2 linked regions of the Homo sapiens genome follow. The protein of the gene in region 1 purifies or fractionates together with the protein of each later gene. This does not show direct contact. Each region holds a gene or a part of one and is shown on either strand. Other genes may lie near its edges.

Evidence for each region. Proteins that work in one complex are often made in the same cells at the same time.
Region 2: the proteins of ZNF254 (region 1) and TRIM24 purify together in Homo sapiens (affinity purification with mass spectrometry; 2 studies listed by BioGRID and IntAct, with this or other methods). This does not show direct contact.

The regions. Positions count from the first base shown.
Region 1 is NC_000019.10:24,089,156-24,094,469, forward strand, and holds part of ZNF254 (zinc finger protein 254), read left to right. Parts: intron 1-2,745; exon of another isoform or gene 2,746-2,860; intron 2,861-5,314. UniProt on the Homo sapiens protein: May be involved in transcriptional regulation.
Region 2 is NC_000007.14:138,567,048-138,572,361, forward strand, and holds part of TRIM24 (transcription intermediary factor 1-alpha), read left to right. Parts: intron 1-433; coding exon 434-607; intron 608-3,782; coding exon 3,783-3,956; intron 3,957-5,314. UniProt on the Homo sapiens protein: Transcriptional coactivator that interacts with numerous nuclear receptors and coactivators and modulates the transcription of target genes.

The DNA.
Region 1 (5,314 bases):
AGTAAAGACAGGGTTTCTCCATGTTGGTCAGGCTGGTCTCAAACTCCCGACCTCGGGTGATACGCCCGCCTTGGCCTCCGAAAGTGCTGGGATTACAGGCGTGAGCCACTGCACCCGGCCAATTAATCATTTTTTGACAAAGCATTTGATGGCACATTTAAAAAGGTTTGTTTTCTTTTTGTAAATATTTCCTATGAGAAGAAAGCAAAGAATAATCTCCTGACACTGTATTGTAAAATATCTCTGCGTTTTTTTTTCTTCTATCTTCCCTAGTCACAGATATCTTATCAGAATGTTTTTGGGTCAAGTTTTCCTTTTGGAAACTATAGTGTGATGTGTCTTCAGTCACCATTCGGTTTTCTTGGACCTGGGTTTCAGTACTGTATTGGGATAAACGAAGATACCCACCATGGCTATGTCTGCTTAGAGTGTCTAGTAAATATCAGCTTCTGGGTCATATTCTCTCATAGGAAAATCTGAGGTATTGAGTGTAGCGTCCCAAGTGCGCAGGTGGATGCCCTGAGTCTAAAAGGCATTTCCTAGTGCACTTTTTTTTTTAAAGCTAATTTTATGAGACATTAATATTGTCTTCACCCAACCCAGCTTTCATTTCTTAAAGACACATTGCTGGTCAGTCAATCAGATACCAGTATTGAGGAGAAAACAAATAATTTCTGCCTCCTGGTTTCCTTTAGAGAACAGAAAAATAGTAAAAAATTTCTAGAAAACAAAACAAAACAAAACAAAAACGAGGGCCAGGCATGGTGGCTCATGCCTGTAATCCCTACACTTTGGGAGGCCAAGGAGGGTGGATCACGAAGTCAGGAGTTCGAGACCAGCTGGCCAACATGGTGAAACCCCATCTCTACTAAAAATACGAAAAAAAAAAAAAAAAAGCTGGGTGTAGTGGTACAGGCCTGTAATCGCAGCTACTCAGGAGGCTAAGGCAGGAGAATCAGTTGAACCTCAGAGGCGGAGGTTGCAGTGAGTGGATATCACGCCACTGCACTCCAGCCTGGGCGACAGAGTGAGACTCCATTTCAAAAACAAAAACAAACCGCAAAAAACTGACCCCAGTGAGATGGTGTAAGAACTTGCAGAGTAAAATGCGCCTGAGACACTCACTGGGGCATAGTTCAGAGTCTCCTGAGAGGGGGTTATTGAGCACTTTAGTGAGTAGGATGGGGTGGGACAGTCTCTCAAGTAATTGGATGGCCTGACTTGACACATGATTAAGACATATCTGTGTCTTGAAAAGGTTTTTTCACTTATTTTGACCTAAGGCTTGTTTTCGTTGTCTTGAGACAGTTTCCCTCTGTCACCCAGGCTGGAGCGCAGTGGTACCATCTCGGTCCACTGCAACCTCCAGATCTTGAGTTCAGGTGATTCTCATGCCTCAGCCTCCCAAGTAGCTGGGACTACAGGTGTGCACCACCACACTCAGCTAGTTTCTGTAGTTTTAGTAGAGACAGAGTTTCACCATGTTAGCTAGGCTGTTCTCAAACTTCTGGCCTCAAGTGACTCACCTGCCTGAGCCTTCCAAAGTGCTGAGATTACAGGCGTGAGCCATTGTGCCCAGCTCACCTCGGTTTTTTAACTGTGTATTGCATTTTATTAGTAGAGCTTGAAAGGTAAGAAAATATTTGCAAAGGGCATAAAAGAGGTGAGTTTCAAAAACATTAATATCTAATAATATATTTTATTTGTTGAACATTTTCATTTACCTTTTTCTTTCTCAGAGTGAGTTTAGGAAGTTTCTCGGACATGTTTTTTTTTATGGAGGAGTGATTTTTTTTTTTTTTTTTTTTTTTGAGACAGAGTCTCACTCTGTCGCCCAGGCTGGAGTGCAGTGGCGCCACTTTGGCTCACTGCAACTTCTGCCTCCCGGGTTCGAGCAATTCTCCTGCCTCAGCCTCCTGCGTAGCTGGGATTTCAGGCACACACCACCACACCTAGCTAATTTTTGTATTTTTAGTAGAGACAGGGTTTCACCATGTTAGGCTGGTCTTGAACTCCTGACCTCGGGTGATCCGCCCGCCTGGGCCTCCCAAAGTGCTGGGATTACAGGCATCAACCACCGTGCTTGGCCTATGGCTGAGTGATTTCAAACAGAATTCCATCTAGCTTTTAGAATGGTAGCTACCAAGGAAAAAAATAAAGAAAAAAAAAAAAAAATCTCTCTTCAATTTCAGCTGTAGACAATGAATACATTTCCACAAAACAATGTGATAGATAATTGATGAGTTAAATAGATTCCTGAAAACTTCAATTCCTTTTTTTAGCAGGGTAAATCCTTGGTAGTGAACATCTTTGTTCTATATCCTGTGTTTTTTTGTGTGTTTGATTGTTTTTTGAGATAAAGAGTTGCACTGCGACACCCAGGCTGGAGTGCAATGGTGCAATCTTAGCTCACTGCAACCTCCAATTCCCAGGTTCAAGTGATTCTCCTTCCTCAGCCTCCGGAGTAGCTGAGACTGCAGGCCTGTGCCACCACACCTGGCTAGTTTTTGTATTTTTAGTAGAGATGGGGTTTCACCATGTTGGCCAGGCTGGTCTCGAACTCCTGACCTCAAGTGATCTGCCCACCTCAGCCTCCCATAGTGCTGGGATTACAGGTGTGAGCCACTGCGCCCAGCCCTATATCCTGTTATTTTGATTTTTGAGTTTAATGCTAAATTTTATGTGATGAAACTTGGTACCTCCTAGAAGTGTTCCTATGTGATTAATTTTTTTTTTTTTTTTGAGATGGAGTCTCGCTCTGTTGGCCAAGCTGGAGTGCAGAGGCGCAATCTCAGCTCACTGCAAGCTCTGTCTCCCGGGTTCACGCCGTTCTCAGCCTCTCGAGCAGCTGGAACTACAGGTGCCCGCTACCACGCCCAGCTAATTTTTTGTATTTTTAGTAGAAACAGGATTTCACCATGTTGGCCAGGATGGTCTCGATCTCTTGACCTCGTGATCCACCCACCTCGGCCTCCCAAAGTGCTGGGATTACAGGCATGAGCCACTGTGCCTGGCCTTTTTTTTTTTTTTAAATGGAATTTTGATGTTGTTGCCCTGAGTGGAGTGCAGTGGGCGATCTCGGCTCACCTCAACCTACACCTCCTGGGTTCAAGCAATTCTCCTGCTTCAGCCTCTCGAATAGCTGGGATTACAGGCACCCACCACCACCATGCCCAGCTAATTTTTGTATTTTTAGTAGAGATGGGGTTTTATCATGTTGGCCAGGCTGGTCTTGAACTCCTGACCTCAGGTGATCCACCCTCCCCCCCGGCCTCCCAAAGTGCTGGGATTACAGGTGTGAGCCATCACGCTGGGCCAAGCAATCCTCTTGTACCTCAGCCTTCCACGTACCTGGGACTACAGGCATGCACCACCATACCTAGGTAATTTTTGTTTTTGTATTTTTTTAGAGATGGGATTTTTCCATGTTGCTCAGGCTGGTCTCAAACTCCTGAGCTCAGGCAATCCACCTGCCTTGGCCTCTCAGAGTGCTGGGATTACAGGCATGAGCCATTGTGCCTGATCATACCATATTTTCTTTATTCAGTCTACCATTGATAGGCATTCAAGTCGATTCCATGTCTTTGCTATTGTGAATAGTGCTGTAGTGAACACCCTTGTGCATGTGTGTTTATGACAGAATAATTTATATTTCTTTGGGTATATACCCAATTATTAGGTTGCTTGATGAAATGGTAATTCTGTTTTTAGTTCTGTGAGAAATTGCCACACTGCTTTTTACAATGGTTGAATTAATGTACACTTTAACAGCAGTGTATAAGCGTTCCCTTTTCTCTGCAACCTTGACATCATCTATTTTTTTGCTTTTTAATAGCCGTTCTCACTGGCATGAGATTGTATCTCGTGGTTTTTCTTTGCATTTCTCCAATAATTATTGATAGGCATTTTATTATATGTGTGTTAGCCACATGTTTGTCTTCTTTTGAAAAGCATCTTTTTCAAGTTTTTTGTCTGCTTTTTAGTGAGGTCTTTTTTTTCTTGTAAACTTAAGATTTTTATGAATTCTGGACATTAGACCTTTGTTAGAAGCATAGTTTGCAAATATTTCCTATTATTCTGTTGGTTCTCTGTTTTCTGTGTTGATAGTTTCCTTTGCTGTGAAGAAGCTCTTTAGTTTAATTAGGTCCAATTTGTCAATTTTTGGTTTTTTTGCAGTTGCTTTTTGTATCTTCAATTATGAATTCTCTGCTAGATTCTATGTCTAGAATGACATTTCCTAAGTTATCTTCCAGGGTTTTTTATAATGTTAAAATAAACATTTCAGTCTTTAATCTTGAGTTGATTTTTGTATATGGTGTAATAAAGGGGTCCAGTTTCAATCTTCTACATAGTGCTTGCTAGTTATTCCACCACCATTTATTACATAGGGAATTGGTTCCACATTTCTATTGTCACCTTTGTTAAAGATCAGATGGTTGTAGGTGAGTGACATTATTTCTGGACTGTCTATTCTGTTGCATTGGTCTATGAGTTTGTTTTTGTACCAGTTCCATGTTGCTTTGTTTACTGCAGCTCTGTAGTATAATTTGAAGACAGGTAATGTAATGCCTTCAGCTTTGCTGTTTTTGCTTGTGATTACCTTGGCTATTCAGACTCTTTGGTTTTATATGAATTTTACAATAATTTTTTTTTTTAGTTCTTTTAAAAATATTTTGGTCATTTGATTAGAATAGCATTAAATCTGTAAATTTTGGGGGGCAGTATGATCATTTTTAGGATATTGATCTTTTCTATTTATGAGCATAAAGTTGTTTTCCATTTGTGCCATTTCTGACTTCTTTAAGCATTGTTTTGCAATTCTTATAGAGATCTTTCACCTTCCTGGTATTCGTAGATATTTTATTCTTTTTGTGGCAGTTGTGAAGGGATTGTGTTTATGATTCGTATTTGGCTTGGATGTTGTTGATTTACAGGGACGCTACTAATTTTTGTACACTTACTTTGTATCCTGAAATGATACTGCAGTTGTTTGTAAGTTAAAGAGCTTTTCTATGAAGACTATATGGTTTTCCAGATGGAGAATTATGTTGTCTGCAAACAGGGATAGTTTGACTTCCTCTCTTCCTGTTTAAATGCCTTTTATTTATTTTTATTTTTATTTTTTTGAGATGGAGTCTTGCTCTTCGCCCAGGCTGGAGTGAAGTGGCAGTCTTGGCTCACCGCAAACTCCACCTCCCAGGTTCAAGTGATTCTCTTGCCTCAGCCTCCTGAGTAGCTGGGATTACAGGCATCCGCCACTGCGCCTGGTTAATTTTTGTATTTTTAGTAGAGGTGGGGTTTCACCATGTTGGCC
Region 2 (5,314 bases), on another chromosome or scaffold:
CAGTACCTGGCATTTAATAACTGCTCAATAAGTGTTAGCAGTTATTATTCTACCATCACTTTATTTTTAGGAGGTTTCAAAAGGGTAGTTCTTTGTGAAAGATAATTGTGAAGGACTTAGAAGGATACCAAAGACACATTTTATTTACTTCCCAACATGGCCTAGGTCCAATTCTGGTACAATCTACTTACAAAATCTAGGTGGCAATCCCTCTCCCAAGGTTCTTTCCTAGTAAGGTTCTTTTAAAAAAGTTGTTTACACAAATTCTGAAAGTCTGCCCATCCCCCACCCCTCATTCCCTTATGTAAATCTTAATAATTGATTGATCTGTGGCAGAGTTCTATTTTTCTGTAAAAGTTTTATAAGATAGAGATTTATAATTTGTTTTTCAGAAGAAGATTGTTACTAAATTGGTTTAATTTCTTTTTTCTAGCAACCGCCTCCACGTTTGATAAACTTTCAGAATCACAGCCCCAAACCCAATGGACCAGTTCTTCCTCCTCATCCTCAACAACTGAGATATCCACCAAACCAGAACATACCACGACAAGCAATAAAGCCAAACCCCCTACAGATGGCTTTCTTGGCTCAACAAGCCATAAAACAGGTATATATCTACCTTCTTTTCTCAATTGCTTTTTCTGCTGCTTTCTACTTTCAAATCACAAAGAATTTACAGATTAAGCAACAGGTTATAAAGAGCCAAGAGCAAGCCTTCTTTTTCATTTTTTAAATAAATGTGAATTGCAAAGTTTGATGCTTTTTATCAGTAAGAGAAATTAAACCACTTATGTAGAAGTGATGGCCCAATATAATCAATGACCATAGGTATTAATTTTTATAATATGGTATGGATAACTTTTAGGTGAGTATATTAAATTTCCTAAGATAAAAGTATTCTAACAAATACAAGTTACATTCCACAAAATAGAACAATAAATGAATCTTTGAAGCGTCTCAAGAAGATTTCTTGGAAACAAAATTATGGCACAGTTTCAAGAGGGAATACATATATATCTGATGAAGTTTAATATTTAATTCATATTTAATATGATACAGCTTATTTATTTTTATTTTTTTATTTTTTTTGAGACAGAGTCTCTCTCTGTTGCCTAGGCTGGAGTGCAGTGGCGCAATCTGGGCTAACTGCAAACTCTGCCTCCTGGGTTCACACCATTTCTCCTGCCTCAGCCTCCTGAGTAGCTGAGACTACAGGTACTCGCCACCACGCCCAGCTAATTTTTTTTGTATTTTTAGTAGAGACTGGGTTTCACCGTGTTAGCCAGGATGGTCTCAATCTCCTAAACTCGTAAGCCACCGTACCTGGCCTCCTTTTTTTTTTTTTTTTTTTTTTTTTTTTTTAAAGTCTCTCTCTGTCACTCAGGCTAGAGTACAGTGGCATGATCTCAGCTCACTGCAACCTCTGCCTTCCGGGTTCAAGCAATTTTCCTGCCTCAGCCTCCAGAGTAGCTGGGATTACAGGCGCCCACTACCATGCCTGGCTAATTTTTGTATTTTTAGTAGAGACAGGGTTTCACCATGTTGGCCAGGCTAGTCTCGAACTCCTGGCCTCAAGTGATATGCCCGCCTCAGCCTCCCAAAGTGCTGGGATTACAGGTGTGGGCCACCATACCCGGCTGTATTATTTATATACTTAGTGTCTTCAGGTAAAAATATTTTCTGTGTTTTACATTATCTTAAAGTTATCACAGTGTTTTTTCTTCTCAAAGCTCCTATGACAACAGCCTGTCTAGCTGATTGTAGACTGATTTTGGTTTCTCCAAGACCAAAATAAAGATGATGCAATTTTCATAATTCTATAACATCCATTTTAATAAAATCATTTTAATATTTTATTCTAAAAGTATGTACACTCTGTGTCTATACATATCTTCGTATAATCAATTTGCCTTTGCTATATCATCACCAAATTCTCTTAAACAATATTTTAATTATTTAAAATAAAATTCATACCTATTATTTCATCATTAGAAGGAAAGTAAAAAGGACCCAAGCTTCAGTTTGGCCTTAAATTCTACTTATTTTCCTAATAATTTTGTGGCACTTACGTAGTCTTTTCGCATCTCCCTTGCCTCAGCTATAAAATGCGTATCTTGCAGAGTTATGTTGAGAGTTTATTCTAATGTATATACAAGCACCTAGCACATGCTCAGTATTCAAATGTTTACCTCTTCCCTATTTATTGTATTTTAATGAGTAGATACTCTAAGCATGTTTTTTTAAAATGGTTGTTGACCAAAAATGTAAACATGAATGAATAAGTAAAGGAACAAGCCAGGAAAAAATCTACTGGGAAATTGCTTTTAAGTAGTAGATGAGTTTAACAAATTAGAGTATACTCATACAGTGGAATACTTTTCAGATATTAAGAAAATGCAGTAATCTAGATATGATTTTCTGAGTACGTGAGGAAAAGCATGTTATAGAATTTTTGTGAGGTGTTATCTCATTTGTATGTGTGTTTTCCTCCAGCCTCATCATGTACATAGAAAAAAACCTGAAACGATCCACCAACTGATTGTTCTTGGTAGAGGAGGAGGAAAGGGGGCATAGAGGTGGGGAATATGAGGGAGGAGTAGGTGGTAAAGAAGACATTCATGTCCAACTTCATATGTTTCTGTATGTAGTTTCTACAATGGAATATATAAATTAGGTTTTTCAAAATTGGAATGTTTCAGACATTTTATATAGTGCTGTTCATTTGTGAATGACCATGTTTGGAAAATACGGCATCTTGCAGTACACTTAGTTACTTTCCTTCTTCCAGCATGAAAATTTTCAAACATAATAAAAATTGAAAGAATTATATAGGGAACATTTTGTTCTACTTGCCTTATTACATGTTTATCTATTCCTTTGTCCATTCATCAAGTCATCCTTTTTTTTTTTTTTTTTGAGGCAGAATCTCTCTCTCTGTAGCCCAGGCTGGAGTGCACTGGTGCAATCTTGGCTCACTGCAACCTCTGCCTCCTGGGTTCCAGTGATTCTCCTGCCACAGCCTCCCAAGTAGCTGGGATTACAGGTGCCCACCACCACGCCCGGTTAATTTTTGTGTTTTAGTAGAGATGGAGTTTCACCATGTTGGCCAGGGTGGTCTTGAACTCTTGACCTCAAGTTATCCACCCACCTTGGGCTCCCAAAGTGCTGCGATTACAGGCATGAGCCACCATGCCCAGCCCATCATGTTTTTCAATAGGTTTTGAGTAAATTCCAGACAGCAGCATGCTTCACCTCTATATACTTCAGCATGCCTATCATCATCTTAATGTGTTTATCTCAGCAGGAATGATAGTACTTTCCTCAGATATTTATCGAGGCCTAATTATCTGTTCATATATGAGAAGAGGAATATAAAATCCTGAAAGTACCAGTCTGTAGCTTAGTATTTTCAAGTATTTCAGATAGGGATAGAAGAAATGTATGTTTTCAACCCTCCATCTTTACCTTGAAGTTGCTATGTATATATTTACATTTTTTTTCCAATATGTATAAACCTGCCAAGATTGGGTACTGTGATTTTCTGGTATATACTAACTGTTGTCTTCCAGTAAAAATCAGTGCTTTTTACTGTTTTGGTTTTTTTTTTTTTTTGACAAGATTAATGAAAATTATATATACTTGTGCAGTCTTTTGCTGTCCCATTCTCCTTCCATGTAAATTACAGTTGAACTCTTCTACTTCATTTTGTGTGAGTGATTACATAGATGTTGTATTTTATAAGCTTGTTGATAGCCTTTGTTCTTCTCTTCTTGTTACTGTAGTGGCAGATCAGCAGTGGACAGGGAACCCCATCAACTACCAACAGCACATCCTCTACTCCTTCCAGCCCCACGATTACTAGTGCAGCAGGATATGATGGAAAGGCTTTTGGTTCACCTATGATCGATTTGAGCTCACCAGTGGGAGGGTCTTATAATCTTCCCTCTCTTCCGGATGTAAGTAGACACAAAATTTATACTAGCCTCTGTTGAAAACTGTTGGCCGGGTGCAGTGGCTCACTCCTGTAATCCCAGCACTTTGGGAGGCTGAGGCAGACAGATTACTTGAGGTCAGGAGTTCGAGACTAGCCTGGCCAACATGGTGAAACCCCGTCTCTACCAAAAAATACAAAAATTAACCAGGCATGATAGCACACGCCTGTAATCCCAGCTACTTGGGAGGCGGAGGCTGTGGTGAGCTGAGATCATGCCACTGCACTCTAGCCTAACAGAGCGAGACCCTGTCTCAACAAAGAAAGAAAATTGTTAGTGAATTTGGATCTGGTAGAAGGCATGAATTTGTTGGATTATAGGTTGTTTGTTTTTACAAGTTAATTTTAATCCTTTAGAATATTACAACAGTAGTAAAAATAAAAAGATTATGAACATTGGACACATAATCTAATGTCTTTCAAGCCACCGGAGTTAAAGGTGTTTGTAAATGAGTGATTATGGTGATGGATCATGGAATCTAAGCTGGGAAAGGAGAAAAGTAAGGACATGGAAAGATATGCTGGGACGTTGAATGGCTGGACATCAGAAGAGATGAAGACAAGTTTAATAATAGAAATCCTGTTAGATCATACTGACAAGTGCAAAATTACCTCTGGTTTATACTACATGTAAATTAACTCACTCTCCAAACTCTTTGTCAGTATGACTTTTTGTTATTTATTATATTTTTAAATGATTTTTATTTTTAATAGAGATGGGGGAGACGCCCTATGTTACCCAGGCTGGTCTTGAACTCCTGGGCTGAAGGGATCCTCCTGCCTTGGCCTCCTAAAGTGCTGGGATTACAGGCATGAGCCACTACACCCAGCCAGTATGACTATTCCAAAGGCAGAAAGTCTGCATTCTGTAGACAGATCTCCATATATAAGTTGATTCTGTGTTTGATCCTTTTTTTAATCTAAAGTTAGATAACCTACTGTCGTGCACATATACATACGCACCTAATGTTAAGAAGCTTTTAGGAAATATCTTGTACTCTTTACTTGGATCAAATTACCTATAAGATTGTGAAAATAACTTTTTTATTTTCATTATTTGTTTTTCAAGTTGAGATCAATTAATATTTCCTAATAGTTGCATTGTTAATCTTACCAGAGTCATTCCATTTTTAAAATAGTTTTGTATACTTTAAATGAGTAGAATACATATATTTTCTCATGCATGGATGGTTCATAGGAAAACTTACATCTAATCCCCATAGTTTTATTTGGCTTTTAGGATTATCCCACAAAGTAAACAACTTTCCTTGTATTAAGTTCTCATGAATTTAGTCATTCTAGTACTTTTTGTACTCTTTGAAA